Linked DNA regions of Homo sapiens. The protein of the gene in region 2 interacts with the protein of the main gene of each other region in a pairwise test. Each region holds a gene or a part of one and is shown on either strand. Other genes may lie near its edges.

Region 1 (3,824 bases), on a different chromosome or scaffold from region 2:
TTTGAATAAAATAGGTCTGGTGTCTAACAAATATTTATTAAGGTAGCTGAAGAATCCAAAGGTACTCTTACATTTGCAAATGGTACATAACTTCAGTATAATAAGAAGTGAAGACAGGCCTGTCTGAATAAATAAAACAATGAAATATCCCTGAGTTATTTTTTTATCTTAGCTTCGCTGAACTTTATGTCTAAGTATCCAAGAGAACTTGCAGATAAGTAATCATTTTACAAAGAACTTAAAGCACCAAAGCCAACAGGTTTTTCCAGCATAGAATTATTTTGGTTTATAAGCATCCTTTTAAGGCCTGGCCTGTAACACATGCATGTTTCCTCATTCTCACAAAGCTGAAATTCAATCATCTTCAGGTTATATAAACTGCTTGGCTCTCATCCATTTATCAGGAAAGCTTCCAATTGGTAAGTGAAGAAGAAAGGCAAAGTGAAACGTTAAACAGAAATCTCAGTAATTTTAGAATGTGGAAAACAAACATCTACTTCAATATTAACAGCTTGCATATTAAAATGATAAATGAAGAGAGGAAAGACCTTTTTTTTGTAATCTATTTGCAAAGGCAAGTGTCTGTTACTCTTAGGGGACAGCAGGCTACCCCGACACTTTTTTTTTAAACCATGTATCAAACGTTTCTTTTATTAACCTAAAAACATTTGACTCACACATTAAAATGCCAATCAGGTAATTTCCTCTATAGTGAATCAATTCTTTGCACAAGCTTTATTTTATAAAATATACTCAATTTTGACATTAAGACATTAGATTCTGGTATATGTTAAATCAAGTTCTAACATCTATAGTACATATTTATAATTTTCTTTGCAAAGACTGATAATGGAGTTACAAAACATTCTAAATTCTCATTTCGTTAGGTTTTGTCCGGTCTTAACATTTATTCCAACTGGATCATTACCAAGACCTGACCTCCTTTTTGATCTCCTGTGAGTACAAATTAAGCTGGGAGAAGTTTCTGGAGCACCACCCTCTGTGCATATGTGGAACAAGTAATTTGGTTCAGACGAAACAGAATTATGTGGAGTCCTCGGCAGGTGGGTTGAGAACTACGCAGGTAGGACTCACTACTGACCGGTCACCACGTCATCCCAAATCCTTTCAACCCAAGACTCTACCTGATGGGAGCCCCCAAGCCACTTACCAGAACCACAGACAACAAAAATGAAGAGAGCCAATAACCAGGGTCCTACAGACGCCTTCTCTTCGGGGGCATTTCTCTGCAAAAGCGAAAATCCACCATTTCAGATGCAGAGAAACCACTCGGACCCCAGGCTCCCACGCCTGCACGCCGGTCGCCGGCCCCCTCACCTCACAGGTCTCCCCTTCCGTTCCCGAGCCCCCACAGTCTGGCGGTTCGCAGACTCGGGCCCCTACCCCTCCACGGCACCAGCCCACGGTCGGCCGGATCCGGGAGAAAACGCGACGCGGCCCCAGGGACCCGGACTCAGCTCCGGCTGCGGAACGCAGAGGGGCGCCCGCTCTTTCCTTACCGAGGTCTTGGCGACGTTGCCGCGCTGGGTGATGTTCTTGCTGTGCTTCTCGTTGGCCATACGGATCCTTTGCTTGGCGACCATCTTCGCGGCGCCACCACCTGCCCCGGCCACCCCTCGGACTCGCTCACTCGCCTGCCTCCTCTGGAGCCGCTGCGAGGCTCGGCTCGTGGTGCCCGCGCCGCCGGAGCGCCGAGGTTCTCAGGCCAGACGCTAGCTACGGCCGCTGGGCCTGGGCGCCGCAAGCGCGAGGTCTGAGCACAAGCCGGGCGCCGGCCGCCGACTGACTGACCGAGCGGGGCAGGTGCGCAGGAGGAAGAGAACTGGCCGCCGGGTCGTTCTCGCGCCGCCGTCGCCGCCGCTTTGGCCGCCGCCGTGAGCGCGGAGTGAAAGAGGAAGGAAACGCAACGCAACAACGGGAATGTGCAGCCCGCCGCCTCGATCTACTTTGGGTTCGGCTGCCAACGTCAGCACTAGACGGACTCCGCCCCGCGGAAGTGCGCGCCCCTCCCGCTGGAGAAGGAGGGCGAAAGCAGGCGCACCCTCCCAAGCTCTGTCAAGCGTCGCCCTAGATTTGCGCGTGCGCGTTTGGGCGCCTTTTCCGCGTCACTCCGTAACCGGAAGTGAATTGGCCCCGAGGCTGATGGCTCCGGAAACACCAATTCGCTGTCTCCACGCATGAGGAGACGTGTAGGGGCCGGGTTCGGCCCTGGTGAACTCTCACCCGAGCGGTTTCTCTTTCCGGGACAACATGGCGCCGTCCACGCCGCTCTTGACAGGTGAGTTCTGAAGAAGCGAGGGACTCTCTTTCTTCAGACTAGTTTCTTATTTTTGTCTTTGCCTTTGAGAACTACCCGAGGAGCCGGGGAGTCTGATCTGCCTTTTCTTGTGGCTTGCGGAAAGGCCAGACTGTTGGCTTTCTTGATATAGCGTGGCAATCGGAAGTGAAGTCTCCGCCTCTGGGCTTTCGTATTCCCCCTCCCTTTCACCCATCCATCATTCTTGCCTGCGGATTCATCTTCTACAGAAATAGAAGAAGGGGGAGAAAAACAATGTGCTAGTTGAATTTGTGACACATGGGTCTGCAATACTGGTGTTACACGGGCCCTTGTGAAGTCATTTAGGTCTACAATAAGAACAAAGACAAACATGAGTTAGTCCTCTAGAATGATCACGCACTTTAAATACACCTGGACTTAAGTAATTCCAGATTCTGGCCTTCCTGCCTTAATGAGGTTTGTAGGACTGAATAGGGAGAGTGGAGCTGTAATGCAGGTTTCAAATGATGAAGGTGTGGTTGGGAGAGGGTGTAGCAGTGAGCATGATAGAGATATTCTAGCAACATTTGATTTTGAAATGGTTATGAGCATATTAGAAATAGAACATTAGAGGACTCTTGAAATTTTGAAGCTAAAGACTGTAGTGTTGGAGGAGATAATAAACTTAGATTGGAAAATGCTGGGGAAGTTGCTTTACTAGGGTGTGGCTAAGAGTCTGCATATGAGTATTACGTAAGGAAAAGAGAGTCGGGAAGGAAAAGAAGGTTTTGGTTAAGTTCTGATAACTATATAGAAGGAAAAAGTCATTAAGAGAAAGGTTGTCTGCATTTAAGGAGGGAGGCTATTCCCTCCCTTCCCCCCCGCGAAAGGAACCTTAAAACATTTTTGCACTTTTTGCCAGTCTACATTTCTATTTTTACATTTTAAAATCTTTGTTATTAAGCGCCATGCCCACTGATGCTCAGTCTGTCTTCTGCAGTTTAGTCATCATTTATCAAACGCCGAGTATAATCTTCTAGATAATATACCAGGCAAAGACTGTTTAAAAGGCAAAGTTACATAATAAATTTTTTTTTAGGTTTGTAAAGGTAGCTTGTTATTCACAATTTTTAATACTAAATGCTTATTTGAACTCTAATGAAAAAATTACATTCTAAAATCTGATAAATAACCCCTCCTTTAAAAATGCCTACAGTAGGTAGTTCCTCTCTGCTTACAGGGTAGATTCCATCCTATGTAGCATAGTTATGTAACCATTTATAATCTTTGAATTGCTCTTGAGACTCATTTATTTCCTTGCCATCCCATCTTATTTGGTGCTCCATCAATACTGAACTGCTTCTGAGTCCCTTTGAACAACCTGTTTCTTCAGTCTAGTACTATCCTATGCCTCTTGTTGATTTGGCAAACTCTTTTTCATCTGTTGAAATTAAAATTCATTTTAGATATCATTGCTCTGTGAAGCCTTTCGTCACTCTACCCAGATAGAGTCAGTCACTTCCTGGGCTATTTTTGTACCTGAAAT
Region 2 (3,600 bases):
TGAAAAAACCAAGTTATATGTTTTTGGATTTTAGCAAAAATCTGGTAAGCTGACATATTCATCTTTGAGAATATTGTTTCAGATAAGAAAGACAACATAAAATTAGCCACAAACATATGTTAACTAATAATGCCCAGCACTATTCATGAGAGCTGTGTGGCTATAATGACGGGAAGGGACATTTCTCCAGATGCTAGTTACAAGAGAGGAGAATTAAGATATTTTGTGAAAATAGCCATGGGCACACTTTAAGTAAATTCTTCAGGAAGATGGTAATAAGGAATAAAATATATTGGAATAGAATTCTTTTACCATCTAAGAAGCTAAAACATTGATTTCAGGGGAGCATAACTCCTAGAAGTTACAAAGGATGAGATTCTGGCTCTTTGATGATAGTTTTATGAAGCTTTCCCGATACAACGTTTCAAATGAAATAGGAAAGTATTGTCCTGGTATAATTGTTTAAAAATGAAAAGCAATTTAAAACAGCATATGCAAGGCAGATATTTACCAACAAGAAATCTAAATGCAGGTTCTCCTTCAGATCCTAGAATCTTAATCTTGTGGAAGATGGGGAAAGTTACTCCGTAGTTTTTTCTTGCAAAAGATTCTACTTCCTTGCTTGGGCGGGGCTCCGATTCTCCAAACTGATTGCAGGGAAAAGCCAACACGCTGAAGTGGGATGGTCCAAACTCTTTGTGCAGTTCCTTCAGCCCTAAGTAATTTCTGTCTGTGAGTTGGCAGTCACTGGCCACGTTTACAACTAGTGAAACCTCCCGGAAAAAGAAAAAAATCCAACCGGAAAGTGAAGCAAAAGATTTTAAAAAATTCTGCAAGTAGTTAAAATCCTAAACAATTTGGGGGGGACTATAACCTCTGATTGATGTTTTTTTCATATTTTTGGACATACACAGTTCTATTGAAAACTGTAACCTAGATGCCTGGGTTAAGGCCCTGAAATAGTACTGCCATTAAAAAAGCATTAGATACTCATGAAAGTTTATTTTTAAATTAAAGATAAAACTATGATCCTTGATAAGTTCTTTTTAAAGTTATTAGATTATAGAACCAATACTTTTATTAATAAATGTCATCATGTTCACATTACTAACTATAAGTATTTTCCAAACAACTTTACATGTCAATTCAGCACAAAATTAAAGCATTTTAAAGAAAACGAGATAATCGGAATTTATTATTTAGAAGCAAACTATCAGAACTGTAATAACTAAAGTGATGTACTAATACCATTACTCTGAAGACTAAATTCCAACTTATGACCATGTAACAGCAAAAAATTGATTTTATTAAGAGGAATAAACAGAGACAAGGAAAAATGATAACAATAAAAATCAGATGATGCAACTTACTTTGCCTTTATACTTTTCCAGAGAAACAGTTCTTCCTTTTGCATCCTTCACTTCAAAGGCATAAAAGCTGTTGATTTTAGGTTTGAGGAATTTTAGTTGTAGAAGAAATAGCGTTACTGTGCATAGAACTATAGACAGCAAAACTGCAAATACCTTTGCTCTGGGCCCGGAACATTTTAGCGGGTAAGCTGCAAGAGGCTCCATGTTGGAGGATTCTAGAGGGAAGTCTCAGCAGCCTGGAATTCAAGGAGGAGCTGAAACTTGAAACCGGCTTAGTTTAACGGAAAACCAGGAAGGACAGGCTGACTGCTTTCACTGCTAAGGAACAGAAAGACCACTTCTCAGAGGGGAAATGAAGCGAAACTCCTGAATGAAGCAAGGAGCTCTACAGAATTTCAAAGTATTTGTGATGTAATTATAATTTTTGCTAGAAAAATCAGGACATTTTTGGTAGGTCTTTGACATTCTCCCTACAAAGAAAATATTTCGCCAGAAGATGGTGCTCTTGTAACTCGAAAGCTACGGAGGGCTCATTCCCCATGCTAAGCTGTGTATTTATTGAGCAACTGTTTGGATGCAGAGGATGGAGTACGATGCTCAGCAATAGTTTAGAATGTAGATTAAATGTGACCTACTCATATGGTGTATACCCTGAAGGACGTTACTATTACATGTATGGGTTAAACATGCTATATGAGTTCAGGAAATTTATAGTGGAAAGAGCAGGGAAATATCTGAAAAAGGCTATTTACCCTGATTCATCTAGCTAAGGCAATCAAATACCAAGTGAATACAGTCAAAATAAATATGTTAAAAACAGTGAAGGTGTTAAAAGAAACCCTTCTCTATCATAGAGCAAACTATAGTCCAGTGTTTTTCAAATTTCTACTCATGACCCCCAGTCAGCAGTGCACTTTACAACATAACTGGGTACAAACAACACACAACTGAGAAACAACACTTCTCCTTTGAACTGTGATGCACCCCCACCTGTTGCATTTTTAAACAACCCAGTTCTGACCTATCAAAATGATTTCATCATTCACCGATGCACTACAACCTGTAGATGGAAAAAACTGAGGCCGGGCATGGTGGCTCACGCCTGTAATCCCAGCACTTTGGGAGGCCTAGATGGGAGGATCACTTGAGCCCATGAGTTCAAGACCAACTTGGGCAAGAAAGCGATACCCCTGTCTCTAAAAAAGAATTTTAATTAGCTGGTTGTGGTGGTGCATGGCTGTGGTCCCAGTTATACAGGTGGCAAAGGTGGGAGGATCGCTTGATCCCAGGAGGTTGAGGCTGCAGTGAGTCGTGTTTGTAGACTGCAGCCTGGGTGACAGAGTGAGACTATCTTAAAATCAGAACAAAAGAAGAAGAGGGAAAAAAGCAAAAATTGAACTCGATAATAAAGTAGTAATTTAACAGTTAAATAAGGCAATTCTACCAAAAAAAATCCCTGAAAACAAACAAACCCTGCAAAACCCACCTCTACTTGGGCACGTCATCTAATTGCTTCGTTTTTTCTCTTTATTTCCCTCCCCTGGCTGTTGCCTGGCACAGGGGGCCTAACTTTGCTGTTGCTAACGGTCATGAATTTTAGGGGTAGGTATGGGGAGGCAATTGAGGGCTGTATATCCTAAAAGCCATTCACTTTCAATTCTGCTCTGTTTAAGACTCATGGCAAGATCTGGATGAAGGGGCATTATGCCATTTGATCATGATGTGTTTCCAGAAAGTGCAGGGAATGAGCTGAGATGTTTGTGGAGTGCCCTTCCTGTCACTGTTAGCTTGTGGAGCTTCAGAGAGGGTGCTCAGGGTGCTGCCTGCTCTTCTGGTTCCCGCTCTGTGGCATGTGTGTTTTCGGGTGGCTGAGCAAAGCCCATAGCCTACTGTGTAAAACTTGTGAGAGGAACCGCTCGACTCCTACTCTCATGGCTCAGTAAGAATGGATACAGTAGAAAAAGCAATGATTATGCAGAAAGTATTCCCTTTTAAACATAATTCCTAGTAAAGAACAAAAATGTATGTAAGATGTGTTGTATCACTTCCTGATAATTTTACTTTGGTGTTCTCTGGCTGAATTGTTTAAAAAGTCAAAGTCCCTGTGTTTATATGACATGAACACTGCTATGTTGCTTAAGCTCTCTGGCCTTGCTCTCTAAGTGGGATCTGGGACCTTCCACAGTACCATCACCTGGGCATTTGTTAGAAACACAGCATTTTGGGCCCC

What was found.
Region 1: the proteins of GPX8 (region 2) and SERP1 interact in binary tests that used the Homo sapiens proteins (3 or more experiments, as listed by UniProt).

What each region holds. Positions count from the first base shown.
Region 1 is NC_000003.12:150,544,532-150,548,355, forward strand, and holds the start of SERP1 (stress-associated endoplasmic reticulum protein 1), read right to left. Parts: upstream 1,966-3,824; 5' UTR 1,605-1,965; coding exon 1,521-1,604; intron 1,248-1,520; coding exon 1,172-1,247; intron 1-1,171. Other genes in the region: EIF2A (eukaryotic translation initiation factor 2A), read left to right, coding at 2,272-2,299. UniProt on the Homo sapiens protein: Interacts with target proteins during their translocation into the lumen of the endoplasmic reticulum. Protects unfolded target proteins against degradation during ER stress. May facilitate glycosylation of target proteins after termination of ER stress.
Region 2 is NC_000005.10:55,158,167-55,161,766, reverse strand, and holds the start of GPX8 (probable glutathione peroxidase 8), read right to left. Parts: upstream 1,597-3,600; 5' UTR 1,575-1,596; coding exon 1,371-1,574; intron 777-1,370; coding exon of another isoform or gene 774-776; coding exon 512-773; intron 1-511.